Homo sapiens: one gene and its partners. The protein of the gene in region 7 purifies or fractionates together with the protein of the main gene of each other region. This does not show direct contact. Each region holds a gene or a part of one and is shown on either strand. Other genes may lie near its edges.

Region 1 (3,500 bases), on a different chromosome or scaffold from region 7:
GTCTTCTATTTAGTCACAAGTCAAAATTCTCCTATGATGTAGTACAAGTGGAATGCTATTTGTGCATTACAACGTGACAATTAGACAGTCTAAAGTGAATCTTTCTCCCCTCCAGCAAGCAAAGGTCTTGTCTGGAGATGAAGAGGACAAAAAGCTCACAAAGAAAAATTTAGAAAGGATTTGCCAAGGTCAGGAACTATGTTTCTGCCTGCTTTTAGCATTCTTCACTACGCATGTTGCAGGGTGAAATGTCAACTATTATGTTTCCATCTGTTTAATATCAGAAAAATACTAGGTGCCTTCAACAAGAGAAGTGGCCAATGATTCAGCTTTTTTTTTTAAATTTTTTTAGATGGAGTCTCGCTCTGTCACCCAGGCTGGAGTGCAGTGGTGCGATCTCGGCTCACTGAAACTTCCATCTCCTGGGTTACAGCAATTCTATCTAGCTAGAATTATAGGCAGGTGCCACCATGCCCAGCTAATTTTTGTATTTTTAGTAGAGACGGGGTTTCACGATGTTGGCCAGGCTGGTTTCGAACTCCTGACCTCAGGTGATCTAATCGTCTCGGCCTCCCAAAGTGCTGGGATTACAGGCATGAGCCACAACGCCCAGCCGATTCAGCTTTTAATTATAAGGAATAAGTAGATTATTTAGGTATCTTCTACAAAGTTAAAGGAAGGAAAAGAACAGATTGCTTTATGTGATTATTTTTTCAAGCATACACAGTAGACTAACATAATGTGTTCTTCTGTTACTTGTGAATTACATAGTACTTAGCACCAATAAATATCAAATAAGGGTCTGTGTAAACTAATGACTGAAATATTTAGAATGAAGAGCCATAACCTTTATTGGATGGTAGGAAAAAGTGAGGGGAAAGAATAGCTAATTTCCAGGAACTCTAAAACTAGGTCTGACTACTTTTCTATTTTTTTCTATTCAGCCCTCATAGAGGGGGAGAAATTGTAAATGGCTGTACAGAAACAGTGAACAGATGGTACTGAAAAGTCACCATCTGTGCATTGGGAGGCTGTATGACCCAAGTGCATCTCCTACCGTAACTTGTGGCTGAACTATGTCTTGTCAGTATGCTAGTTTAGAGAAGGAAAGACTTCCTCTAAAGACAAACTGTCATTAATATTTCTTTAGATGAAAGAGAGAAGGCAGGGAGAAGAAAATGGTCATAAAATAATCCAATTTCTTTTTTTTTTTTTTTTTGAGACAGAGTCTCCCTCTGTTGCCAGGCTGGAGTGCAGTGGCATGATCTCAGCTCACTGCAACCTCTGCCTCCCAGGTTCAAGCAATTCTCCTGCCTCAGCCTCTCCAGTAGTTGGGACTACAGGCACGTGCCACCACACCTGGCTTATTTTTGTATTTTTAGTAGAGACGGGGTTTCACCATGTTGGCCAGGATGGTCTCGATCTCTTGACCTCATGATCCACCCACCTCAGCCTCCCAAAGTGCTGGGATTACAGGCGTGAGCCACCAAGCCTGGCAAGATAATCCAATTTCATTTAGAAAATAAGACAATCCAATGCCATTAAGAAATAGCTGGCTGGGCGTGGTGGCTCACGCCTGTAATCCCAGCATTTTGGGAGACCGAGGTGGGCGGGTCACGAGCTCAGGAGTTCAAGACCAGCCTGGGTAACACGGTGAAACCCTGTCTCTACTAAAAATACAAAATTAGCCAGGTGTGGTGGTGCACGCCTGTAATCCCAGCTACTCAGGAGGCTAAGGCAGGAGAATAGCTTAAACCTGGGAGGCAGAGGTTGCCGTGAGCTGACATCGTGCCACTGCACTCCTGCCTGGGACAGAGCAAGACTCCGTCTCAAAAAAAAAAAAAAAAAAGAAACAGCTAAACAGGGCCAGGCGCAGTGGTTCATGCCTGTAATCCCAGCACTTTGGAAGGCCGAGGCGGGTGGATCATCTGAGGTCAGGAGTTCGAGACCAGCCTGGCCAATGTGGCGAAACCCCGTCTCTACTAAAATATAAAAACTTAGCCAGGCGTGGTGGCACACGCCTGTAGTCCCAGCTACTCAGGAGGCTTGAGGCAGAATTGCTTGAACCGGGAGGTGGAGGTTGCAGTGAGCAAGATCGCGCCACTGCACTCCATCCTGGGTGACAGAGCGAGACTCTGTCTCAAAAAAAAAAAAAAAAAAAAAAAGAGAGAAATAGCTAAACAGAAAAACCATGCTTTATCTATGAAAACTGCTTTTTTAAATAATCTAACAGTGAATCTGTGTGTGTGTGTGCGCGCACATGCATGTCTGTGTCTAGTAATGACAGTCCATAACATTTAGCAACAGTGTTTGAAAGTGATGACAGCAAGGAGGAGGATGACAACAGGAAAGTAGTTTGTTCTTTTTTAACATTGTGAAATGCTATTGTAGAAAGTGTTGACGTGTGAGGCTGGAATCTGAAGCTGTCATCTGTCTCATCCATGATGACTGCACTCAAGCTGTATGTGGTAATTCATTTATTATAGACTAGTTTTACATACATTATTATTTGAGGGCAACTTTTAGCAGGAAAAACTATAAATTTAACTCTAAGAAAAATATGTTTTTCTGGCTGGGTGTGGTGGCTCACGCCTGTAATCCCAGCACTTTGGGAGGCTGAAGAGGGTGGATCACTTGAGGTCAGGAGTTCGAGACCAGCCTGGCCAACATGGTGAAACCCTGTCTTTACTAAAAATACAAAAATTAGCCAGGGGTGATGGCGGGCACCTGTAATCCCAGCTACTCAGGAGGCTGAGGCAGGAGAATCACTTGAATCCGGGAGGCAGAGGCTACAGTGAGCCAAGAATGCGCCACTGCACTCCAGCCTGGGACACAACAAGATTTCGTCTCAAAGAACAAACAAAAATAAATAAAATATATTTTTCAAGACAAGCTATGTGATATTAATGCATTAATGCAGAGGTTCATGTATCCCTAAAATTACACACAAAATTGTGTATGTGTTACTTTTCTGGGAAGAGCATCCATACTGTTAATCAGATCTTTAAAAAGTTAGGACCCAACAAAATGTAAATTCTTAATTCTCAGGGAGCTAAGGGAAAATTAAAAGTGTGTGTTGGGAAGGGGGAAGGAGTGAAAATGGGAAGATGAAATTCTGTAACAATTTTTAAATCCTTAACCAAAGATTAACACTTCCCTCAGTTCTCTTCTTCCTTACTCACATTCCTCCTCCAAAGCACCAAAAGAAAACCAGAGTACAATAATACAAATTATTATAGATACTTGCTATAGTAACTTTTCTTCCAATATAAAATACTGAAATTAATCAGAATCACATTAGCTTCACACTATTCTCACTTCCTGCAATTTAAAAAACATTTTTGCTTAGGGACATAAAAAGTTTGGAGATATGTGAGCATGTAGTTTTAAATTCAAACAAATGTTGAGGGAAAATAAAAGACAGTAAAGAGAAAACAGGCCATTATAGCATATAGGCCTGGCTTTAAAATTAGCCTCTACGAATTTACTGCCTGTATAAA
Region 2 (4,322 bases), on a different chromosome or scaffold from region 7:
ACCTCCTAAGAGAAAAAGATGGTTCCCAGGCTGATGGGCATTTCCATTCCTGCCCTTGGTAGGCTCACAGTGGTTTGTGGGAGTAACCAAGGCCAGAGAGAAATCTAAGGACTAGGTTGGGAGCTATAGGACCCTTGGTCTGTTCATGCTTTGCCTCTGAGAAACCCTGTAGACCCCACATTAAGAAACAGGGAAACTTTAAAGGCCTATAGGCTGGTCTTGGAGATGACAGAGACCTGACCTGCTTTTCCTCCAATTGGAAGGCCAAGGGGGAAGAGAACTGAGGGAAGCTAGGGAAGTAGCAGCAGCTTGAAAGAAGAGACTCTGAAAACACACTAAAACTGGAGAGGCTGGGTGTGGTGGCCCATGCCTGTAATCCTCTCACTTTGGGAGGCCGAGGCAGGAGGATTGCTTGAGGCTGGAGTTCGAGACCAGCCTGGGCAACATAGTGAGATCCTGTCTCTAGAGAGAGAGAGAGAAAAAAAAAAAAAGCTGGGTTCCTGCTTGAGCCCAGTTGTTGAGACTGCAGTGAGCCATGATCATGCCACTCCCCTCTAACCTAGGCAACAGAGTGAGACTCTGTCTCTGAAAGTAAAAAAAATGAAAAGTGGGGAGTGCTAGTGGGAGCCAACTCAACCCAAGTAAAGGCCTAATAGCTCCTCTATGGGTGTTTGCACTGTCTAACAAAGAACTGGACCCTGACAGTCAGAGGACCCATGGTAGGATCATCTAGTGTAGCCCCTTCTTTTACAGAGGGAACCTAGGACTTGGGTTTGGTTCAGTGGTAAGACCTCAAAACCACAAAAGAGCTGGGTCACTCTAGAGAAGCTTTTCTACTTGGCCAATGCCTCTTGGCCCAATTCCCTCTAGGTCTCTGATTTATAAAAGTTTTTGTATGTGTGTCTGTCTGTCCCAAGAGACAGGAAGCATTCCTTTCAGGGAAGGAACCAAATTTCCCTAGGGCTATGATGCTAAATAGTCCATTCTCCCAAGAACAAGTCCTACTCTGTCATTTACCTGCATACTGTCACATGAAGACTGATAAGGGTGGGCCTCCGAGGCTGAGGATGCTGGGGCACCCTTCGTCTCAGGAGTCCCATCCTAGCCAATGAGGATGGGCAAGATGAAGGGAGCAATGGGAAAAAGGACACAGGGATTATCTCATGTTTGAAAAATTATATAGCATGGGAATGTTAGAGAAAGGTGAAACAAACAGCCATCAAATCAGAAGCAGAAGCCTGCTTTAGCTCAGTGTTTTCTTCTTTCCTGAACACTGTCTTTCTTTTTTATTTATTTATTTTTTTTGAGATGGAGTTTTACTCTTGTTGCCCAGGCTAGAGTGCAATGGCGCGATCTCGGCTCATTGCAACCTCTGCCTCCCAGATTCAAGTGATTCTCCCATTTCAGCCTCCCGAGTAGCTGGGATTACAAGCACATACCACCACACCCGGGTAATTTTTATATTTTTAGTAGAGATGGGGTTTCATCATATTGGTCAGGCTGGTCTCAAACTCCTGACCTCAGGTGATCTGCCCACCTCGGCCTTCCAAAGTACTGGGATTACAGGCATAAAGCCACTGCACTTGGACCCTGAGCATTTTCTCTTGCTTTGTTCACTAAGTCTCCTGTATGAGAACCCTGACTTGCCAAACAGATTCTGGGTTGCGTCTCTGCCTTCCCTTTCCTTTACCTCCTCCTTTAACACCTAACACAGGTAGGTTCACGCTGGTAAAAGCTACAAACAATGGCAGTGGGAGGAGTTCCTCTGAGTTTTACTGAAAATTTAGGAGACATCAATTTGTTAACTCTCTATAGGGTCAGAAACATGAACTAAATCTATGGTTCCCAAACCTGGATAATCCTGTCACTCACTAACAACCTACTGGATGGGCCCAGAAATCAGCATTTTATGGAGCTGAAGTGATAGATAACCTCACCAGTCTTCAGATATGCAATGAGGAACTCATGCATAACCTTAAATTCACAGGGCAGTCGGGTTACAGCCTCTTCAAATAAATGACAATTTAAAGTTACCTCCTCCAGGCCGTTTATCATTAATCCCATTTCTTACATGTTCCACCAAACCCCTGACCTCTCTGGTTTCTCAGATTTCCAAGAATCTCTGTTCACTTCTTATGTTTGTGCACTCCCAAGAGAATGGAGGCTCATCTGGAGAAGGAACTAGATTAATCTTCTGCTCTACACTTGAGCTCCTGATTATGGTAAGAAACTCGATAAAAATTTATTGGCAGATCAGAAGATGGATCCTTAGAGGAAGTCTAGTGTAAGAGGTGAAAGAAGATACTTTGGAGTCAGATGGTCTGGGATCCTGGCTGTAGCAAATTAACATTCCTGTCTCTCAATTTTTTTCTTCTGTCAATACCTACCTCAAAAGGTTGTTGAGGGTGAATGAGATGATACCTAGAAATTACTCTGAACAGTGCCTGGAATAGAGTGAGCATCCAGTAAATTGGCTGCTATGACTATTATTAAGAACACCCCAATATTTCCCAGCCACAACTGCCCCAACTGGGCAGGCCATCAACAGCCAACAGGTATGATATGGGGAGTGGTCTTCCATGTACAAAGCTTCTGGTTCCTTTCTTTCTAAGAGATAAATGCAAATGACTCAAGATCTTCTCACAAAGACCATGTACCCATAGATATGGAGTCTCCTGGGGAGAATGATAACCCCTTTGGTACGCTGCAGACATGAGGACCCTACATCAGGAGGTCCTAGCTAGGACAGTCAGTCACCAACCCTGTCACCCTTCGCGTCTACTACATGAAGCATGGGCACAAGAACAACAACCTGGAATTTAAGAACTTTTTTTACTCTGAAAGGAGAGCTAAACAAACCTCTGTTCTCCAAACACAAGATCTCCATCTTCCATGCAGTGAAGAGACCACAGGCTTTGTAAGCAGACCAACTTGAGCTCGTTTTAGAGCAAATCACTGTAACCCTCTGGACCTCACCTTCCTCATCTATATAGAAATGAGAAAGGGGTGCACAGGAGAAGGGAGAGAAGATAATATCTCACTGAATTGTTGTGAGGTTTGAATGAGGCAGGGTGGGGGAAAAGCACCTAGCATAGTGCTTAGCACATCTCAAGCACTGAACTGGTGCTGGTCCCTCTGTCCAGAGATAGGGCCATGGCCTACAGACAAGGTGAACTCATAGTGTCAGAACTCAAAGTCTCAGATACTGAAGGCTTGGGTCCCTCCCTGCCTCCCTCATCCCTCCCAGACCAGCTCCTGGACCCCCTCCCTCATGTCCCAGGCTGCTAAATTGATGAAGCTAAAAGGGTTTTGATCATGTCGGTATATTTATATGTAAATACAAAACTGTATCACTGTAAGATATTGAATATGAACATTACAATTATTTTCTGAATCAGACTCAGTCCATTGATATTAAATACAAAATGAAATGATTGTAAAAAATAATAATATACACATTCAAAGAGCTTATTACAGTATAAAATTATTGAGGTCTGATCAGCTGCCAACCTCATCTTCTGTCACAGGGGAAGGTTTAGGAGTTCCTGGGATTTTTTGGGAATGTGGAGTGCTGAGGACTCTTGATTTATCCCTAGCACATAAGGATGAGTGGGCTGGGAGCAGGCAGGGACAGGTTGGGTGGGTAGGGGACAAACAGTGATTGCAGGGGACCACCTCACTCAGCCAGGGGGTGAAGCTTTTTATTGACACAGAACCCACCCAGTTTGAGGGTCTAGCAGGCTAGCAGGCAGGAAGAGATGGGCATCTCGGTAGACAGGGCCAAGCTGCATAAAGGAACCATCCAGCAAAAGAAAAAGGGCCCCAGCTCATCCTCCCAGGGAGGTATTTTCTTAGTGGTTTTTTCTTTCTCATACCTGGGCTCCCCCTCCTTCCTTCTAAGATTCGTACCGATTGCATTTGGCTCTGGCTGCTCAGTGAGTTCATCTCTACCCTCCGCCTCCCATCCCTGGGATAGTGAAAGCAAAGAGAGAGTATGGAATCACAGTGGAGGTCTGTTCCCCAAATTGGCCAAGTAAATGTAGAAAAATCATCGGATAAGGGAAATCCATGCTGAGCTAACCCAGTGTCACCACAAACTAATACATTCTTGGCTCCAACAGGTGGCAACTGGAAGGAGATAAGTCATTACTTAAGGAAGGGGCCCTGTGGCAGGAACATGGAGGAGATGTGTGTGTGTCCTCTTCCACCACTCTGTAGCCTGACAAGAGGAGACATGATCACCAACCCAAGCTAGTCCAGGATAAATAGTAGGGTCCAAGAAGCAAGGAGTCCTGAACTGCAACACGGAGCCCCAGGAACTT
Region 3 (3,171 bases), on a different chromosome or scaffold from region 7:
TGGGATTCAGAGGGTACTGCTCTGTGGGGTTCCCGTCATCATCAGCCCAGTGCAGTGGAGCCAAGCCCCTGGCCTCAATCTGAGCTTGGAGTTCCGGAGAAGAAAATGCTACGTAACCTGGGATGGAAGGAGGAGGGAAGTGAGAGCCAAGGTCCTTCATGCCCACCCTTGCCCCCAACCCTCGGGCCCTCCCCCAGCCTTCCTTGGGCCTGACCTTCCCCGTGCGCACTCCACACGGGCAGCACGGCGCCCTCCATCCCTCGCAGCATCAGGGCTGGCCCAGGCCCCACACGCACGCTGGCCCAGCGAGACTCGTAGCGCCCAGACAGGTTGTGGCGTAGCAGAAGGCCTGGCCGGGCTGGCTGGGAGTCAGGGCCCATCTCTGCAGCATCCTCATTGGGGTCGCCTCCCACCCAGCCGAGCAGAGCCAGCAGTTGACAGCCATTACACACGCCCAGGCTGAAGGTGTCTGGCCGCTTCCGGAAGCGCCTCAGCTCAGCCCCAGCCCTGGGATGAAAGGTCACAGCAGCTGCCCACCCTAGCAGGGAATAGGGAAGTCAGGGTGAGACATGGAGGACCTCAAAAAAGGGAATTGGGAATGAAGGGGCATAACTGCTCTGTTTCTTTTCTTTTTTCTTTCTTCCTTTTCCCTCCCTCCCTCCTTCCTTCCTTTCCTTCTTTCTTTTTTTTTTTTTTTTGAGATGGAATCTCATTCTGTCACCCAGGCTGGAGTACAGTGGCATGATCTCGGCTCACTACAACCTCTGCCTCCTGGGTTCAAGCGATTCTCCTGCCTCAGCCTCCCAAGTAGCTGGGATTACAGGCGCCCGCCAGCACGCCTGGCTAATTTTTGTATTTTTGCATGCCTGTAATCCCAGCTACTTGGGAGGATGAGGCAGGAAAATCGCTTGAACCCAGGAGGTGGAGGTTGCGGTGAGCCAAGATTGCGCCATTGCACTCCAGCCTGGGCAACAAGGGTGAAACTCCGTCTCAAAAAATACATATATATATATATATATATTTAAAAATATACATATTTTAATAATATATAAATAATATATATAAATAATATATTTTAATAATATATAAATAATATATATAAATAATATATATTTTAATAATATATAAATAATATACATTTTAATAATATATAAATAATATATATAAATAATATATATTTAATAATATATATTTTAATTACATATGTGTATATATATACTTTTTTTCAATGAAAAAATTAAAAATTTACTACCAGCCTTCTGTTGGCATGTGGCCCAGAACGAATGGGCCCACTCTCTCGTAGCTCGGTGGAGTGAGAGGCCAATCCCCAGCCCAGGAAGATGGGGCTAAAGGCACCTCTTCAGGAATGTGGGGGAAGGGAGTGGGCAGAAGCCTGCACACTGACCTTTGGCAGAGCCCAGGACATCTGCATAGCTGAAGCCGCCCACGAAGGCCACGCCACGGAAAGTGTCCAGCCCAATTGCCCCAGAGCAGAGGTCCTGCATGGTCACGTCCCATACCTGCGAAGGTGGGGAGGGGGAGTGTGGGTGGGAGGACACGCAGCTGAGGCTGGACAATCACCCCCAGCTGCCCCCTACCCTGCTCACCTCAAACCCAGCTAAGTGGAAGGCATCGGCCATCTCCCGGTCTCCATTACTGCCCTCCTCTCGCAAGATGGCGACTCGGGGGCTGGGACCACCTTGGGGGAGAATAAGTGTCTTTGGGCCAGAAAGTCACTTCCCCACCCCAACTCCCCAGACACCTTTCTGAGGGCAGGCCCAGGCATCCAGGCTCAGTGCCCCCAGGACGCGGAGCCTCTGCACACACTCCCTCACCAGGCTCACGGGGCACGGAGGCTTTGGGAAAGGTGGGGGGCAGGCAATAGCTGGGCCCCATCCGCTCCCTCAGGCCCCGTTCCTCCTCTGCCACACAGCGAGGCTCTGCCTGTAGCCGGTCCAGCTGGAAACTCGTCTCCTCCCAGAGGGCTCGCAGCTCCCCAACAGGCTCCTCCAGAACCACAGCCCCGTTCACTGACACCCGGACCTAGGAAGAGGAACAAATCTCCCACGGGCTAGGAGAAAGGATGGCCCCCTCCACAGTGGGAGAGGGATGGACCGCGGCCACCCCACTCTGACTGCCCACTGCACACCGCTCTCTCCCTCACTTCCTCACCATGGCGTGGGGCCCGGCCTCGCCTGTGTGGCCCAGCTCCAGGCAATGGAGGCCAGCATCCCGGTAACGCTTCAGCACCTGGGCCAGGTCTGGCTCCTGCACCTCCAGCACGAGGCCTGGCTCCTCAGCGAACAGCACAGACAGGACTGGGAGAGCAATGTGGGGAGTCAGGGGGATGCAAGAAGGGCCAAGGGAGTTGGGGCGGGATCAGGGAAATGCAGGAAGGGCCAGGGTGAGGGTCAGAGGGATGCAGCCAGAGAGTAGGGTAGGGATCAGGGAGGATGAGGGCTAGGACGGCAGGACTGAGGATGTTTCATCATGGACATCTCAGGGATGGGAAGTCTCAGAGGGGTGCAGTCAGGAACATGGTGGGTGTCAGCCAGTTCCATCCAGTTCAGCTGTCAGAGAGACAGCACAGAAAAGCTAGTCAGGGAAGACTCAGGGAAAGGGGACTGGAGGGCACTCCACTCTTTAATATATTGGAAATGGGGTCTGCAGGGTAGAGAAGGCAGCCCGGGCCTGAGACTAGACCCCAGGTTCCTTACCATCAACCCTGGGGACAGGCACATCCACCTGTAGCCCGCAATTTCCAGCAAAGGCCATCTCCAGCAGGCATGTGACGAGGCCTCCGTCACTGACATCGTGGCCTGAGCAGAGGAGGCGGTCTGGAGGAAGGAGAAGAAAGCTCAGCAACCTCGGGACCCAAACCTGACAGCCCCACCCCACCTTCCGGAGTCAGTCCATCAAGAGTGTGTGTCAGAATGTCAGGGGATCTGGGGTACATCGTCCATTGGAGTCCCTTTTGCCCCACTGCTCAGATGGTGAACGCCTGCTGCACGCCTGGCACCCTGTGCGCTATCTCCCCAGGGGTCTTCACTCACCTTTCAGCAGCCCCTGAGTGATGCTGAAGGCCCGCACCAAGTTCTCAGGAAGGTCCAGGTCTGGAGGGTGTTCCCCAAGCTGGGAGAAGCACTGGGCCAGAGCTGTGCCCCCGAGCCG
Region 4 (4,322 bases), on a different chromosome or scaffold from region 7:
AATATAAATACAGTTCACCGGGGAGATGAAATTGTCCTTCAGAAGGCGGACAGAAATTGTGCCAGGGCAAATTCCTCCATATGCACTGATCTTGAGGCTTTGACTTAGGAAGCCAACCAAATACTGGAGATGTCAATGATATTTTAGAAACGAGACAACGGGGTGCACTAGCCTTAAGTTGGAGAGCTGTCACATTAGGATCTAGCCTCATTTACTGGGTCCTGACCCCAAGTTCCTCACTGTGGCCAGGTTCCTTTCTGATCTCTCCAAAGAGATCAGCAGGAAGCATGTAGGTCTGAGGTGGGGCTGTCTCATTTACAAGACGTCCTTATTGTGAGCTGAACTAACTGTTTGCGTGGCTACTGTCCCACTGCCTGCTTACTGACTGAAACTTCTGCTATGGTTTGGGGGACCCCTGACAGACTCATCATCTAACTGCAGGTCCCACACTGACCTCTGTCCCTTGGGCATCTCCTGGGGTTGGTCCTTGCCTCTGGTCCCAGTTTGCCCTTGGTTGTCAGGCTCCAGGTTCCTGGCTTCCTGCTCTGTTTTCAGAGTCACACTTCCCATGGTACTTCACAGGATGAAAGGCATCACGATCCAGGGGAGGCTTACGGCTGGCTGGAGGGAGCCTGCATTTTCTAATGGCCTTTATTAGCCGGCAGGGTACATTCTGCCAGCCAGTGCAGAGACAGCTGTTTTTCACTTCACTGACTTTGGAGAAACTGTGAAACTGTTTCTATTCCCTCCCAGTTCTTTCTGCCACCTTGGCTTCCCCAGGGCTGTCAGGAGTGTGAACCTCAAAGAAAGGGTACGTAGCAGTGGGAGGCCAGGCAGCAGCAGACCAATCAGAAATGCAAGTGTTCTTCTTGAGTGAACGTTTAAGGTGGACAGCAAAATTTAAGAGGCGAAGGCACAAATACTGGAGGTCTCAAAAGGAGAGGTGCTGCTTGTACCAAATAGGCCATGTCTCTTCATCTGAGTGCGCCTATGAACAGGCATGCTTATGCACACCATCTTTTGCTCTATATACTTCAAAGCAGAATCAGTCCTAGAATAACAGAGCTAGATGGCCCTCATGGATCACCTGGTTCAAACCTTCAGTTTATCAAAGCAACTGAAGCTCAAGTCACTATAATTAGATTAGGATTGCAGCAGCAGTATTTCCTATAAACCCCACCCTCCCAGTGAACACAAAATGTGCCAGAAGGGTCCAGCCAGCTTCTGCATTTTTCTGTCAATAGCAGCAGGGCTGGGAAAAAGCTGAAATGCTTAGACTAGCAACTCCCAATGCAGCCCAATTCTACAAGTAAATAGTAGAGAGGTGGTATGTCCCAGGGAATGGTCCCAGACGTAATGCAGATCTGACAGCAAACCCTTTCGACACCCTTCCCCTTTTTTAAAAAACAGAACTTGGGCACATTTTGGTCTACCCATGAGCAAATACTATTGGCTTCTCATTCCCGCTCCTTTCCATTTCTCCTGTAAGGTAGGTGGTGTGCATAAGCATGCCTGTTCATAGGCACGCTCAGAGGAAGAGACATGACCTATTTGGTACAAGCAGCACCTCTCCTACCTTAGGTAGGTGTAGCAAGATAGAATGGGAACCAGGTATCAAAGGTAAGAAGAGGTAATCCAATCTTGCTGAGCTTGAGAAAGTTATGAGGCTAAGCAGATATGAGAAACAAAAGACACAGGACTATGTATCAATCGATGTGCTCCTTCCTTTGTAAATGCTGTATCTCATACAGCCAGCCAGCTGGTAGCTTTTAAGTCTTAGAAATAATAATTAGAGCTATTTAATATCTCTTTACCCTCATGAAGAGCACATAAGTTAATACACAAGAAATAATAGCCTAAATGTCTCATGTCAACCCATGAGAAATTGTTGAAGAACAGCTGAAGAAACACTGATATGAATAAGTGGATAAATAAGCAGAGAGGAAGAGTAAGGCTAAGGAATATCCGGAAATTTTCCTAACAGTAAAACCTATTAGTCTCTAGAACAATGCCCCAGGGAACCCGTGAAAGGCCAATCTTATGAGTTATTTAAAAGTGGAGTGGACTTAGCCATTGGAATTATTCCATGGGGGAAACCCTTGCACTGTGTCGGATATGGACAACACTGCCTAATGGCTTGTTGTCATGTATAGTATTTTCCATGTTTAGCATGTCCAGCTTGTTCTCTGGATTTAACAGGAAACATAAGAAGAAAATGTAAGAAGTTGGCCCATGAGGAACTGCTAAAATAGGCAGTCGGGACTACGTATCTTGCCGGAGTCTCTTAACAGGGGCACAGCTGGGGTCATGAGGTTAGCCTAAATTCACAAGGAGCAAAAGGACAACCTGGTATTGGAAGGAAAGTAACTGCTCATGAAACACTGATAGAAGCTCCTTCTGGCCACTGTGGCGTGATCTTAAAATGGGCCAGTGCCAAGTTGCCCCTTTCATCACGGGCTTCATCAACCCACTCCCCATGTGTGACCTTCAGACTCTGTCCCCCGCTCATTAGATCTTCCACATTCTGTGTCCTCCCTTTATCGCTTTCGCTCTCACTTTCCCTTACTGCCTTATTTCTGCATTAGTGGATGATGGATGGATGCCCCTTCACAAACTTACCCACTCAAAAACCAAATGCCACTTATGTATTTTGAAATTTTTTGTTTTTATGGCAAGGTACATCTTGGTCTAGCTGTTAAATTCACTATTGTGACTTCCCTGAGTTTCAATGCTCTCAACTGGAAAATGGTGAAAATAAAACCATCTCTATTTACATCTCAGGTTGTCATAAAAAAACAAGTAAAAGAATGGATGTGAAATGACCTTGCAATCCTAACTACTGCCGAAATGTAAGGTGGTGCAGGTTCTTGGTTCTCGTCCATTTCAATGTTGCCCATCTCAGGAAAAAAGGTTTGAGGGCTTCTATCTTTTTATTATTAACTTGTATTATACACCTCCTAATAACTGAATATAAGAGCCACGAAAACAATAGATACTCCAAACATACTAGCTGAACATAAAAGATTGGAGAGTGAGGGGGAAAAAAGAGGGTCTCTTTTGAAATCATTAATAATAATTTGATGCTTTTGGCTGACCTGTTTAGTAAATTTCAGCACAATAATGCAACTGAGGAAAGAAGGGGAAAAATAAGATTTACTGAATACTTTATATAAAGGTAATCCTCACAACATTACCCCAATTTACAGATGAGAAAACTCAAGCCCCAAGGTCACAGAGCTGGTAAAAGGACAGGGTACAAACCCAGGTCTGCCAGATTCAAACTCACTATCGCGCCATGTGGCGTATTTGCTTTTGTCACAAGTTAACTTTGCTTTATCCTATAAATATATACCATTGATGTCACAAGACTATATGTAGATAATTCAACACAACCCAGACAGGCAGGATGGGGTCAGCACTCCCAATGCCCCTGCAGCTGCCACTGTGGTAATGTTACAAATCACATGGTACAAACAGGCACGTATGTTAGAGACCAGCATTGAAACATACACTTTGTCACAACCACTCTTTTCCACTGACCACCAGCTCAATAAGGCACTATTATCAAGTTAGAAAAATCCATGAATCAACCTACGAGTCTCAAGTCCTTCAGTTCATATTCATATTGAAGGCTGGGGTTTATTAACAGCATATCAGAAGCTGTTTTCGACAAATAAAACGTACTAACTTAACATTAGCAACATTACCTGTACCAAAGACCTTTAATGAAAAGGATCCCTGGCATACTACTAAGAGTTATACAAGTGCAGCTACAAGCAAGAAACAGAAAAAAGCTGCCAGCCACTAGGCTTTTGAGGACAACATAGGCTTTTAATAAATCTTGATTATATTCTTTCCACTAATGTTACTTTATTTTCCAGCTATCCAGATAATACTAACCCTCCCGTCGGATATTTGTAGAGTATAAAAATTTTACACCAAGTGATATTATTATAACTACATCAAATTAGACTGCAGAAAGGCATGCTGTGTAACTTAAACACTAGATTTAGTTGGGTTAGAAGGTCAAATCTATGGAGTTTGTCAGCAGAAGGAATCAACGTTTCCAACAATTTCTGCCTCTCAGAACAACCATATCCAACTGTTAAATTGGTTAAATGATAGGCAATTATGTGACCTGCCAGAATTGATAATTTGCTTCAGGGTTTATCATTAGCTTTCTAAAGTACATAAATTAGAGAAAATGCACGTCCTGTGAACATCATATTGTTCTGATATGAAGGGTCAAGAGAAGAATATGGCTATGGTCTATAAAAGCAGTGGAAATTCTTTTTAAAATGCTATCTCTGGTTTCCCTTTCC
Region 5 (4,322 bases), 4.6 Mb from region 7:
ATGCATGCACACATGTGAAGATGAAGGCGGAGATCACAGTGATGCTTCTACACATCAACATGCCAAAGACTGTCCGCGAACACCAAAGCTAAGAGAGGAGGCTAGAACAGATTTTCCCTCACAGCTCTCAGAAGGAATCGACCCTGATTCTGGGGCTCATCACGGACTTCTGGCCTCCAGAACCATGAGACAGTCCATTTCAGTTGTTAAAGCCACCCAGTTTGTGGTAATTTTATTATGGCATCCCTAAAAACTAATAGACAGTATTCCCACAGTCCTGGCAAGAGACAAAGGTGGCCTGGACCATGGTAACAGCAGTAAGGAAGTGAGAGATAGTTGGCTTCTCAATCTATTCAGAAGAAGGAACCAGTGGGGTTTGCTGAAGGACTGGTTGAGAGATATAAAATAAAGAAGAGTCAAAGAAGACTCAAAGATTTTTGTTCTGAGCAACCAGGCAAAAGATTCTGCCATTTACTGAGATGGAGAAGATTGTGGGAAGTGCCAGTCTATGAGTGGTGAAATGAGGATTTAAACATTCAAGAGGAATGAAAGAAGAAAAACATGAAAAGAGCAAGAAGAGCTCAGCAAAGAAAATGAAGAGAAAGAGAAACAGAAGAACAGTTACAAAAGACAGAGTAAAAGCAACAAAACAGAATAACTACCAGGGAAAACACAAAGTCATGGGGAAGCAGCCAGAGGAAATCACACAGAATGAAACACATCGAATAACTGAAAACAGAGAACATGATAGGTACTGAAAACAGATAAAGGAGATCGAACATATGCATATTTATTATTCCCAAAAGATAATAAAAGAAATGGGGCAAAAGTCACATTCAAGTACACAACAGAAATTATCTTTCCTGAAATAAAGTAACACTTGAATTTGTGAATCAAAAGGTCATGCAATTTCTACAAAAAAACTGAATACAGAAAATCATTGAATCCTTGGACACTCAGGTGTAGTTGCTATGCTTCAAAGTTATTTTTTAAAAAGCCTTAGTGATAAATTATAAAAGATAAATACTGAAATGCAGATTGTAGAGTGAAATATAAATGTTGTACAAACTTTGAGCAAACCTCCTTGGGCTAATCTAGAGTGCCTCTCCAGAGTGATCCTACAGGACAGCAGCTAGGGGAAATCCTCCCCGTAGGACAGCTGGTAGAAGTACACTTGGCTTGCTACTTTGTATGAGAACTTGCCTGAGGTAACAAGATCCACAGACAGGTAGCTGGATAGTCAGAGGACTGAGAAGAGCAAAATAGGTAAATCACAGATAAGCTCAATGAAATCATCTAAAACTGAAATACATGGTTTTAAAAAATAAACTCTAACCTCAAACTTTTTGCAATACTCTTTTTCCCCTTAAATTGAGAGGGATCTTTCTAGAATTATTAAACTCTTATGGGAAGAAGCGTTTATCTAAAGTTCAGCAGTACCTTCTATTTTACTTCTATTGCTCTTCCTCCATTATATTTAAGAGAGATAAAGCACTAACTGGAAGAGAAGCAGGGTTTGTTTGATCAGTTTTATCTTGATTGGGAGAGACTTCAGTATGTTTTTACTGCGATCTTCATCGCACTTCTGATTCTAGTCAATTTCTAATATGAACCACTTGGACTCTGTCCCTTTGTCCCTTCCACAATCAAAAGGAGATGAACACTTTACATATCTCGAGCAATACTACTAAAATACTAGCAAATACTAGCAAAACCAGTGTGTTTGCTACAGAAAACACACTGGTTTACAAATATATCAGCTGTGGCTATAACATTTACTTACCCCCAACCACAGACACACTTTATCGGTAGGAGGAACTGAAGCTTTGCAATACAGGTTATCTGCCAGCAAGAATCTGGTCTCCATTGAGTTGGTGGACTCCTTCAAAACAAAAAAAAAAATGACAGTACCATAAACAGGCCAGTTTGATACCAAGGTTATAAAGGAGAGATTGCACAGTTGAACCTAGGACATTTAAAACAGTACCATCATGCAGGCTAAGTGTAGTGGTAAAAGAAATGAATGCTAGACCCAGGTGGCTGGGTATGGACTCTGGCTCAGCTACTCACTAGCTGTACAAATCTGGCATCTCACTTAACTTCTATATCTCAGGTTCTTCATCTGTAAAATGAGGATTACAACAGTCCCTACACCTATGAAGTCAGTGGTAAGCACTGAGTATACACAGACACACACACACCCCCGAGTGCCTGACATACAGAGAAGGCATTATTGTAAGAATTAGCCATTCTTCTATTATTTCATTGGTGCTTCATGCCCAATCAATCAGTTGCTGAAGTCTTACAAAGTTCACCACATATTAAAATGTACTAGAAATAGTTATTCTACCAGTCAAGCAAAATCATAAGCATACACACAATCTTTTAAATACAATATGCTTATGAGATTTAATCTTTACAACCTGCTTTTATTTAATGAATACTGGATTAAGACTTAGAAGACTCTCAAATTTAGTTCTGCCAGTAACTAACTACATAGACAATGGTCGAGTATAACCTCTCCATAACCATTTCCTCAACTATGAAATGAGAACCTGTAACAGATGATCTCTAAGATTCGTTCCAGCTCTATAAATCTTGGACTAACTCCTTATTCTTAGGGAGAAAGACAACAACAAAGAAAAAACCCTAGATGCTGCTAGCACAGAATAAGACATTTTCTTTGTACACCTAAAACAATTTCAAATTGCATTTAAGTTTCACAAGCACTAAAGATAAGCAAAGTAATCCAAGTGTGGGCCCTAGAATTAAACTTGACTTTTGGGGGAAGGCCACAAAGCCACATTTGCTACAGAAGCACATCATAACATTAGTGTATGTGCTTAAGAAGGCAGACTGGATTCCACAGCACAGATCAAATATCAGTGACCAAAGAGTCAAAGAAGACGAGTTTCTGCTGACATATCCTAGCTTGCTCATATTTACAAACAAAAATGCACTTACTTTTTTCTTCTGCATGTATTTTAGAATTTCCAAAGTCTGTTTAATTTCAGGAATCTGACCTTTTAGCCTGTGAACAAGAAAAAGAGTAACTTAGTATTTTGCAGGCAAAAATAAACAACAGGACACGGTCTTACTAACTTTGCATTTTCTACTAATGTGTTCTTGAGGACTATTTATAGATATAAAATACTTAAGATATTTTTAGATATGAGATAAAATAAGATATAAATATTTATAAAAATAAAATATTTAAAGAAATATTCACCAAAAGAAAATATATTTAGTAAAATATTCATAAAATATTTAAAGTATAAATACTTAATAAAAATATTTAAGATATACTAGTGAATGTTTATGGAATGCCCATTCCATGAAGACAAAGCTCTGTTCTATTATGTCAAATACCCCATGGCTATTTAACATTTCTAGAGCAGACTATATTCCACAGAGGTGATTCATAGGTTCTGCATTTGATTAGAATGAAATTTTAAATAGATTAATTTTAAAACTAATTTTAAAAATAACATGGATTCAAAAGTTACATTCTAAAATAGAAGACACCAATCCCCTATCCAGTGATGCACATAGCTACTCCTGGTGTGTGCATTGGGTATACACACATGTACATCACAGTCAGCTAAATGCCAGGCAAAGCACAGTGACACCTTCTCAGTATGTGCACTTGTCACACTGTGAAAAATGTACAGAATCATCTGAATGCCAAACACACCACATTATGATACAGTATAATTTAGTGATTCTTTTAAGCTTTGGGTATTTCTTCCTTAACTTTTATGTTGATAAATGCTCTTCTTTTCAAATGAGGTAACGATCGTTCTTAAAATTATAAATGGATCACTGATTTAAACACAAGAAATTTAAAAAAACAATGATGGACATGATACAACTGATCCGACTTAATGGATAAGTTATATGATAGCTACTAGCAAAATGCTAGTAAGTGACTCCCAAATGCAATCAACCTCACTGACAAGAACATAAGAGAAAAACAGTATGCTAAAAACATTCAGTCAATTAAAGAGAGAAAACAATGATACCGTTTTTGTCACTGGGGTTTAGCTCTTTATGGTAATTAGATGCATGTGTTTTGCATGGAGATATATGCAAAACAGTTCTAGGGTCTCTGTCAAATGTAATTTCTAGCAAAACAGACTAAGGATATAAAAACGAAGCTCTGGTTCTTTCGAGGTAAATTTACTAAATATTATTAGAGACCAAAATGTAAACAAAATATAAACACAACAATGAAAATGAACTTATTGCGTCACATAAAAGAAGTCACTCCATGTGTGCAGCAGGTTGGCAGGGCAAATTTACTACACCCTGTGCTACTGACC
Region 6 (4,322 bases), on a different chromosome or scaffold from region 7:
GTTAACCATATTACTAAAAGAGAGAAAGGGAATCATTTATTCGAGACTACCAAAAACAATGCTATTTAAAATAGTAACAATTTTGGTAATCTAAATCTTAGGGCATTAAGAAAAGGGAGTTGGCTGGGTGCGGTGGCTCACGCCTGTAGTCCCAGCACTTTGCCAAGAGAGATGCATCTCTTGAGGCCAGGAGTTCAAGACTAGCCTGGGCAACAAGGCAAGACCCTGTCTCTATTAAAAATAAAAAAAATTAGCCGCATGTAGTGGCACACACCAGTAGTCCTAGTAGCTACTTGGGAGGCTGAGGCAGGACGATCTCTTGAACCTAGAAATTGAAGACTGCTACAATCATGCCACTACACTTTAGCCTGTGTAACAGAGCAGGACCCTGTCTCTTAAAAAAAAAAATAAGAGTGTACTAACTGTTCTCAGAATAAATATTACCTATTAGTATTATTAAATTACTCCTGATTTATTTCACTTGGGGAAAACACTCATAAAAAAACAGAAGCTGGGCATGGTGACATTTGCCTGTAGTCCCAGCTATTTGGGAGGCTGAGGTGGGAGGATCGCTTGAGCCCAGGAGTTCAAGGCTGCAGTGAGCCGTGATAGCACCACTGCACTTCAGCCTGGGCAACAGAGCAAGACCCTGCTCTAAAATGAAAAAAAAAATTTAATTTAATTCAAATTAAAAAAAAAAAAACAGAGAAAGGTAAGACAACAAATACTAAGTAATTTTTGTTGTTTTGGCTGCCAAGCAACTTCCCTAACACCGTAACATCTGGTAAAGAGGCAAGGTGAAGAGGAGGAGGAAAAAATGACCTACTAAGAGGCAGCAGGCTACCAGCTTATACCTAAGTCCTTGTAGACCCATAAAGTCCCATTCTAAAGATCTGAAGTAGGCTGTGATATATGTCAGAACAAAGGTTTTCACCAATTTAATTTTAAATAAGTATTACATCTGTGAACTGGAATGTTATGCAGTTGATACAATTTTCAAAAGATGTAAACAGGAAAATAACCACAATGTATCAAAAAAAGCAATATACAATATACTAGGTATACAGCATGATCCCAATCCACTAAACAAATAGAGAAAAAGAGAGAGACAGAGAGAGAAATAGAAGTGAGAGATATACCTAACAAAGAAATATACTAAAATGGTAAGCAGTGATTTTCTGTGGGTGGTAAGATGGGAAACTCTCATTTCCTTCAGAAATATGTAGGGGTTGTCCTAGGACACGGTGAAAGAAGAAAATGAAATCAGACTATAAAGGGAAACCATGAAATTCTGTACTAGACAGACACCTATTTTACACCCCCGTTAAAACATAAATGTACCCAGGCATGGTGGCTCATGCCTGTTATCCCAGCACTTTGGGAGGCCAAGGCAGGCGGATCACTTGAGGTCAGGAGTTCGAGACCAGCCTGGCCAACATGGTGAAATCTCATCTCTACTGAAAATACAAAACTTAGGTGTGGTGGTGAGTGCCTGTAATCCCAGCTACTCTGGAGGCTGAGATATGAGAATGCCTTGAACCTGGGAGGTGGAGATTGCAGTGAGCCAAGATTGCACCACTGCCCTCCAGCCTAGGTGGCAGAGACTCCATTTCAAAAAAAAAAAAAAAAAGAGTTTAATCTATAAAAACAAAACAAAATACAAACGTGTCTTTCCCTTCAGTCCGGAATGTGATTACTTTGAAATAATTGTTCCAGTTTTGACAGATATGAACATGAAAAATGCACACTGCACCCATAAAGCCCATATGGACTCCCTGCCTGGATCATGTGGCAAAAAGACCCTCAAAGGTATTTTTTTCTTTAAACACATAAAAAGAAGTCTCCAATTCATTTTATGAATATTCATTATTTTACCTTATCGTGGCCTCAAAGACTTGGACGGTGGAATCTTTGTCAAATGAAACTGTGTTGATCACTAACTTGACGGCTTTCTGGAACTCGGATGAATTTCCCATTATCTTTAAAAAGAGGAACACAGGTCATTACAGCAACTTGAAATGAAACTGAGGCTGTATCATCACAGCAGCCCAGTCACGTCACCTAAATGTCTGTATGTGGTTTTGCTACCATAGGAGTAGAAACACAAGAGACAGAAAAGCAGTTATTTCTTAGCATATATTCCCAGCACATGGCTGGCCCATTTCCTCCAACTCAAGAGTCCTGTCTCCAAAGGACAAAACTGTGAAAATAATTCCTTGTAAAATCATTGGCACTCCTCATCTTCCCAACTCCACTCTCCAGCAAACTTCACTATGATCTTATTTAACATGCCAGGCATTGTGGTTTCTAAAACTTCTGGCAGGTATACAAATAAATCAGAAAACTGAAGAAACAAAAATATGTCTTTCTCTCTGCTCCTCAAATAAATCAGCAGCTTGGGTGCTTGGCTCCCAGGAGACCAAAACATGTGGAAAACTGAATGAACTTGTTGATTGTTATCCAGATGCCTAAACACTTTGAGAAATAGTGGTAATATCTTTTGGAGCACAGGATAAAACCAGTGACTGATTTAAAAGAAACAAAACATATGAATAATCAGCTCTATGTCCTTTTTAAAAAGTGATCTAGAATTATGATTCCTATTTTGGGTATGTAGATACGACGTCACACTAAGCCACTCTCTCCTATGTGAAGCACAGTTGGGCATCAAACTTTATAGATTAACCTGAATCAAAATTATTTCATTCCACTCTAAATTTTATGACAACCCTGAGACTATAATGACATCATAAGGACATACTGTGATAGAAAAATAAATTTCTGGGACCCCAAAATCACTAAGCCAAAGGGAAAAGTCAAGCTAGGAACTGCATCAGGCAAACCTGCCTCCCATTTTATTCCTAAATAAGATAGCTACAAAGATTCAAAAAAAAAAAAAAAAAAAAAAGCTATATACGTCCCTTACAATTTACCTACAAGGAAATTCCTTGTGGGCCTCAAGATCTTCCCCTCAAAACAATTCTGCTGAATTTCACCCAGGCAATGTAAATTGACAGTTTATCTTCACAGGTACAAACAAAGGACAGAACTCAGTCATCCCTCTGCTCACCTAAGAAAAATGCATATCTGATTGCTTCCTCTGCCCTACTGTTTATGTAAAACTGCAGATTCACTAAGCCAGACAAAGGCATAAGTGACTATTCCTCTACCTTTGTCACAGGTAAACTGTATATTCCGTGAAAGGCTAATCAGAGAGTCAACCGGCTGGACACGGTGGCTCAGGTCTGTAAGCCCATACTTAGGGAGGCCAAAGCGAGCGGATCACTTCAGGCCAAGAGTTCAAAACCAGCCTGGCCAACATGGCAAAACCTTGTCTCTACTAAAAATACAAAAAATTAGCCAGGCGTGGTGGCGCATGCCTGTAATCCCAGCTACTCGGGAGGCTGAGGCACAAGAACTGCTTGAACCCCTGGGAAGGTGGAGGGTGCAGTGAGCCGAGATCTCACCACTGCACTCCAGCCTGGGCAACACAGCAAGACTCTGTCTCAAAAAAAAAAGACAAAAAAAATGTAACCATTTGTCTTTTATCTGCCTGTGACTTGGAAGTGCCCCCTCACCCCACCCCCAGCACTTCAAGTTGTCTCACTTTTCTGGACTGAACCAATGTACATCTTACACATACTGATTGATGTCTCATGTCTCCCTACAATGTATAAAACCAAGCTGTGCCTAACTACATTTTTTCCACCTCATCGTTATTTTGCTGTAACCTACAGAGTAAGTACAGACATTTCTAGCTTTCAGTTCTTTCTTTTTAGAAGATGATGCAATAATGCTGCAAGTTGCATCCAATGGTCAGGGGACTGCTATCTTCACAGTGTTTCCCTAGCACATCTGTTAAAGCCTGTTTAAATGTTAGCAAAAGAAAAGGAAAACTTCAACAGAAGTAACACCTGAAAAATAAGCCTGAAGCACTAAAGGCCGGATATTCTACAATGAAAACCACAGAGATGAGTCTGTTTCCTTACAGATGTTTACCAGCAACAATATCTGGTGAAGCTGCAGGTGCTGACAGGAGCTCAAATCAAGTGAGGAAGGTGAAGGAAGTCAACAGCTCTTACTTATTGTAGTTTATCATTATGGTCAGATAGCTATAGAATCCTGAGTGACTATGTTCTGAAATCACACTAATGTTTGAAAATGGCTGAATGGGACAGAGGAGCTAAATGGGTTTGTTTGTTTGACTGTAGGACTTCTCAGAGTCTTTAAAATGCTGATGGGCACTGTGGCTCTCTAATAGTGGGACCAGACATACGGAATTTCTCAAGTTCATTTAGAAACAGAACTCTTCTTTCAGGGAG
Region 7 (4,845 bases):
CATAGTATTCCATGGTGTATATGTACTGCATTTTCTTTATCCAGTCTATCACTGATGGGCATTTGGGTTGGTTCTATGTCTTTGCTATTGTAAATAGTGCTGCAGTAAACATGTGTGCATGTGTCTTTATAGTAGAATGATTTATATTCCTTTGAGTATAATGGGATTGCTGGGTCTAACGGTATGTCTGGTTCTAGATCCTTGAGGAATCGCCACACTGTCTTCCACAATGGTTGAACTAATTTACACTCCCACCAACAGTGTAAAAGTGTTCCTGTTTCTCCACAGCCTCGCCAGCATCTATCATTTCCTGACTTTTTAATAATCGCCATTCTGACTGGCATGAGATGGTATCTCACTGCGGTTTTGATTTGCATTTCTCTGATGATCAGTGATGATGAGCTTTTTTTCATATCTTTGTTGGCCGCATTGTGTGTCTTCTTTTGAGAAGTGTCTGTTCATATCCTTTGCCTACTTTCTGATGGGGTTGTTTATCTTTTATTTTTATAAATATGTTTAAGTTCCTTGTAAATTCTGAATATTAGACCTTTGTCAGATGAGTAGATTGCAAAAATTTTCTCTTATTCTATAGATTGCCTGTTCACTCTGATGCTAGTTTCTTTTGCTGTGCAGAAGCTCTTTAGTTTAATTAGATCCCATTTGTCAATTTTGGCTTTTGTTGCAATTGTTTTTGGTGTTTTTGTCATGAAGTCTTTCCCCATGCCTATGTCCTGAATGGTATTGCCTAGGTTTTCTTCTAGGGTTTTCATGGTTTTGGGTTTTACATTAAGGTCTTCATATATTGCTTAAGCTTTCTAGAAAGTGCTTGCCCCTGATCCCTTCAAAACATTAACTTTCTGGAGTACTGTTCTGTTGTATATCTTGACCTGGGTGTGATTACCTAAATGTATACGTATGTCAAGATTCACTGAGCTGAACATCTGAAGATTTTGCACTGTGTGTGGTTTATATCTCAGTACAAAACTTTTAAAACTTAACATGCTGGGAGAGTCACGTTATGCTCCAGCCTGACTTCTGCCTTTGTATCAACATCAATCCCTTGTTTACTCATCAAAGTAGTCACCATTGTAGCAAAACAGATGCTATTAACTCACTTCACTCACACAATGCCATGTGAGGGCTATGCTGTTTTGATTCCCATTTTACAGATAGGGAAATGGAGGCACACAGAAGGTGAGGGGGCAAACCCAGCATTCATACCCAAGGCGGAGCATTGCAGAGCCGCTATGGCTGTCAGCCATGTATTCAGATGGGCAATAAGCACATGAAAAGATGTTCTAGCAGAGCAATACAAACGAAAACTACCGTGACATACCATGTCACAGCCCTCAAATTGGAAAAAAGAATAATAATCGTATGCTCCCAAGTTCTAGTGAGAATGCAGAACAATGGGAACTGCCAGGTATCACCAGCAGGAGCCTCTCTGCAGGCAATTTGGCAGCATCTGGTGAGGTTGAAAAGACCATATTCTACTTCTCAGCAGTTCCACCCCTAGGAAAATTCCTTAGAGAAACACTCGCATATGTGCTTGAGGAGATGTGTACAAGGATACTCAGTACAGCATTGAACACACTACCGAGGAGCCCTGGAAATCACTGATTACCCATCAGCCTGGGAAGGGGTGGAGAAACTGGTTTATTCCTTCAATGCAACTTAACAAGGATGAAATTCAGAAAACATGTTGGGTCAAAATGTCAATTGATAAATACCAGATGGTACCAGTGATGTAAACTTTGATAAAACACAAAGTAATACTGTATTTTGTTGCTGGATACTCACAGGAAAAGTGTCACAAATCTGCACAAAAAGGAAGGTCACATGGCAACTTGAGAAGAGTTGTCCCTCAGAGTGAAAGAGGACAGTGGGTCTGGGACGGGCAACACGGGAGACTGGAGCTGTGTCTCGGCTGACACATTTTCAAAGATAGTGACACGTGTGAGGAAATGTGTACATTAGGTATTTCTTGGTGAACAAATACTTAGTACTTGGGTGTTTAGTACTCTGTGTTGTACTTTCCTGTATGTGTCAATGAGGCAGTAGTTAAGGAAAGTATGTATTATGGTAAACTTTGAGTAAAGGGCTTATTTACAAATCAGCAGTCACAGCAGATGGGTGGAACACGTGAGTTCTCATGACGTGCGTGGCATAAAGTGTAACTCAAGTCTCTGGTTCTCTCCAGCAGCCGAATCCAGTGGAGCAGCGTTACATGGAGCTCTTAGCCTTACGCGACGAATACATAAAGCGGCTTGAGGAACTGCAGCTCGCCAACTCTGCCAAGCTTTCTGATCCCCCAACTTCACCTTCCAGTCCTTCGCAAATGATGCCCCATGTGCAAACTCACTTCTGAGGGGGGACCCTGGCACCGCATTAGAGCTCGAAATAAAGGCGATAGCTGACTTTCATTTGGGGCATTTGTAAAAAGTAGATTAAAATATTTGCCTCCATGTAGAACTTGAACTAACATAATCTTAAACTCTTGAATATGTGCCTTCTAGAATACATATTACAAGAAAACTACAGGGTCCACACGGCAATCAGAAGAAAGGAGCTGAGATGAGGTTTTGGAAAACCCTGACACCTTTAAAAAGCAGTTTTTGAAAGACAAAATTTAGATTTAATTTACGTCTTGAGAAATACTATATATACAATATATATTTTGTGGGCTTAATTGAAACAACATTATTTTAAAATCAAAGGGGATATATGTTTGTGGAATGGATTTTCCTGAAGCTGCTTAACAGTTGCTTTGGATTCTCTAAGATGAATCCAAATGTGAAAGATGCATGTTACTGCCAAAACCAAATTGAGCTCAGCTTCCTAGGCATTACCCAAAAGCAAGGTGTTTAAGTAATTGCCAGCTTTTATACCATCATGAGTGGTGACTTAAGGAGAAATAGCTGTATAGATGAGTTTTTCATTATTTGGAAATTTAGGGGTAGAAAATGTTTTCCCCTAATTTTCCAGAGAAGCCTATTTTTATATTTTTAAAAAACTGACAGGGCCCAGTTAAATATGATTTGCATTTTTTAAATTTGCCAGTTTTATTTTCTAAATTCTTTCATGAGCTTGCCTAAAATTCGGAATGGTTTTCGGGTTGTGGCAAACCCCAAAGAGAGCACTGTCCAAGGATGTCGGGAGCATCCTGCTGCTTAGGGGAATGTTTTCGCAAATGTTGCTCTAGTCAGTCCAGCTCATCTGCCAAAATGTAGGGCTACCGTCTTGGATGCATGAGCTATTGCTAGAGCATCATCCTTAGAAATCAGTGCCCCAGATGTACATGTGTTGAGCGTATTCTTGAAAGTATTGTGTTTATGCATTTCAATTTCAATGGTGTTGGCTTCCCCTCCCCACCCCACGCGTGCATAAAAACTGGTTCTACAAATTTTTACTTGAAGTACCAGGCCGTTTGCTTTTTCAGGTTGTTTTGTTTTATAGTATTAAGTGAAATTTTAAATGCACAGTTCTATTTGCTATCTGAACTAATTCATTTATTAAGTATATTTGTAAAAGCTAAGGCTCGAGTTAAAACAATGAAGTGTTTTACAATGATTTGTAAAGGACTATTTATAACTAATATGGTTTTGTTTTCAATGAATTAAGAAAGATTAAATATATCTTTGTAAATTATTTTATGTCATAGTTTAATTGGTCTACCAAGTAAGACATCTCAAATACAGTAGTATAATGTATGAATTTTGTAAGTATAAGAAATTTTATTAGACATTCTCTTACTTTTTGTAAATGCTGTAAATATTTCATAAATTAACAAAGTGTCACTCCATAAAAAGAAAGCTAATACTAATAGCCTAAAAGATTTTGTGAAATTTCATGAAAACTTTTTAATGGCAATAATGACTAAAGACCTGCTGTAATAAATGTATTAACTGAAACCTAACACTGTTTTCAGGGCTGTGAGTGTGCATGTGTTGGAAATGTGCATGGTGGCCATCTGATTTCTTTGCCCGGGTCTGCTTCATGTACTTTTTATCTCACCGGCAACCTTGCAGGGCTCTCCCAAAATTTCAGCAAGATTGGGCATTTAAGTGTATTAAACAGTGCAGATTTTAAGAGTCACGACTGTCTATGAGGATGGCTTTTGCAAAAGTGAACGCGCAAAACTCCAGGCTCTGAATAGGGAACACAGCAGTTGATAGTAAGGGATGCGAAGATACTGGTTAAATAAGCCATAGTTGACGTCTCATTAGGTAAGAATTTTTAAAATTCTTCAAACAATATTGCCAGTTGGAGATTATGTCGTTTACATATGTACGTTCTAAGAATGCTGAATAGTTGTAGCAGTAAACTAAAATTGACCATTTTTTGGCAATCAGAATAGATCACGTGGAACAGAGCTTAAAGAAAAAAAATCAGAATAGGACTCTTAAATGACTAAGTGTATCTTTCATAACGATGAGTATTTGAAGTGCTTTGTGAAGTCCTTCCTCAGACATTGCCTCATTGAACCCTCACTAGGACCTTATGAGCTAGGGGGCATTCTGTTACCCCTATTTTTCGACTGAGGAGAATGCTGTTGTTGCAGGCGTTCACTGACATGCCCCACGTCCTACAGCACCACCACAAGTTTCATACTGGTGTTAGCCTGAAGTCTACATTTGAGTTCCCACTGAATGGCCTGAGCTCTGCCTTCTTCATTGAAATTGAAAGAACCTCTCTTCCTGGGACAACTCTTCAAATAATTCGGAATCATATACTTTTTAGTATAGGTTTTGTTTCTAAATATAGTCATAGCACTTTCTGACCTGTTTTTGATAATGCAGCAAAGCTTATCCTTTTGCTTTCTTGGAGGGAATAATATTCAAAAAG

The links.
Region 1: the proteins of MTM1 (region 7) and MTFR1 purify together in Homo sapiens (affinity purification with mass spectrometry, with the first as the bait; one large-scale study listed by BioGRID). This does not show direct contact.
Region 2: the proteins of MTM1 (region 7) and PTPN9 purify together in Homo sapiens (affinity purification with mass spectrometry; one large-scale study listed by BioGRID and IntAct). This does not show direct contact.
Region 3: the proteins of MTM1 (region 7) and PFAS purify together in Homo sapiens (affinity purification with mass spectrometry, with the first as the bait; one large-scale study listed by BioGRID). This does not show direct contact.
Region 4: the proteins of MTM1 (region 7) and CHCHD3 purify together in Homo sapiens (affinity purification with mass spectrometry, with the first as the bait; one large-scale study listed by BioGRID). This does not show direct contact.
Region 5: the proteins of MTM1 (region 7) and VBP1 purify together in Homo sapiens (affinity purification with mass spectrometry, with the first as the bait; one large-scale study listed by BioGRID). This does not show direct contact.
Region 6: the proteins of MTM1 (region 7) and EDEM1 purify together in Homo sapiens (affinity purification with mass spectrometry, with the first as the bait; one large-scale study listed by BioGRID). This does not show direct contact.

What each region holds. Positions count from the first base shown.
Region 1 is NC_000008.11:65,675,734-65,679,233, reverse strand, and holds part of MTFR1 (mitochondrial fission regulator 1 isoform 1 precursor), read right to left. Parts: intron 1-3,500. UniProt on the Homo sapiens protein: May play a role in mitochondrial aerobic respiration. May also regulate mitochondrial organization and fission.
Region 2 is NC_000015.10:75,463,816-75,468,137, forward strand, and holds part of PTPN9 (tyrosine-protein phosphatase non-receptor type 9), read right to left. Parts: 3' UTR 1-4,322. UniProt on the Homo sapiens protein: Protein-tyrosine phosphatase that could participate in the transfer of hydrophobic ligands or in functions of the Golgi apparatus.
Region 3 is NC_000017.11:8,265,900-8,269,070, reverse strand, and holds part of PFAS (phosphoribosylformylglycinamidine synthase), read right to left. Parts: coding exon 3,054-3,171; intron 2,838-3,053; coding exon 2,718-2,837; intron 2,571-2,717; coding exon of another isoform or gene 2,548-2,570; exon of another isoform or gene 2,319-2,547; coding exon 2,173-2,318; coding exon of another isoform or gene 2,161-2,172; exon of another isoform or gene 2,044-2,160; coding exon 1,836-2,043; intron 1,700-1,835; coding exon 1,608-1,699; intron 1,521-1,607; coding exon 1,406-1,520; intron 539-1,405; coding exon 215-538; intron 118-214; coding exon 1-117. UniProt on the Homo sapiens protein: Phosphoribosylformylglycinamidine synthase involved in the purines biosynthetic pathway. Catalyzes the ATP-dependent conversion of formylglycinamide ribonucleotide (FGAR) and glutamine to yield formylglycinamidine ribonucleotide (FGAM) and glutamate.
Region 4 is NC_000007.14:132,791,639-132,795,960, forward strand, and holds part of CHCHD3 (MICOS complex subunit MIC19), read right to left. Parts: intron 1-4,322. UniProt on the Homo sapiens protein: Component of the MICOS complex, a large protein complex of the mitochondrial inner membrane that plays crucial roles in the maintenance of crista junctions, inner membrane architecture, and formation of contact sites to the outer membrane.
Region 5 is NC_000023.11:155,225,944-155,230,265, reverse strand, and holds part of VBP1 (prefoldin subunit 3), read right to left. Parts: intron 3,032-4,322; coding exon 2,965-3,031; intron 1,883-2,964; coding exon 1,784-1,882; intron 1-1,783. UniProt on the Homo sapiens protein: Binds specifically to cytosolic chaperonin (c-CPN) and transfers target proteins to it. Binds to nascent polypeptide chain and promotes folding in an environment in which there are many competing pathways for nonnative proteins.
Region 6 is NC_000003.12:5,197,249-5,201,570, reverse strand, and holds part of EDEM1 (ER degradation-enhancing alpha-mannosidase-like protein 1), read right to left. Parts: intron 1,980-4,322; coding exon 1,876-1,979; intron 1-1,875. UniProt on the Homo sapiens protein: Extracts misfolded glycoproteins, but not glycoproteins undergoing productive folding, from the calnexin cycle.
Region 7 is NC_000023.11:150,669,228-150,674,072, forward strand, and holds the end of MTM1 (myotubularin), read left to right. Parts: intron 1-2,200; coding exon 2,201-2,368; 3' UTR 2,369-3,916; downstream 3,917-4,845. UniProt on the Homo sapiens protein: Lipid phosphatase which dephosphorylates phosphatidylinositol 3-monophosphate (PI3P) and phosphatidylinositol 3,5-bisphosphate (PI(3,5)P2). Has also been shown to dephosphorylate phosphotyrosine- and phosphoserine-containing peptides.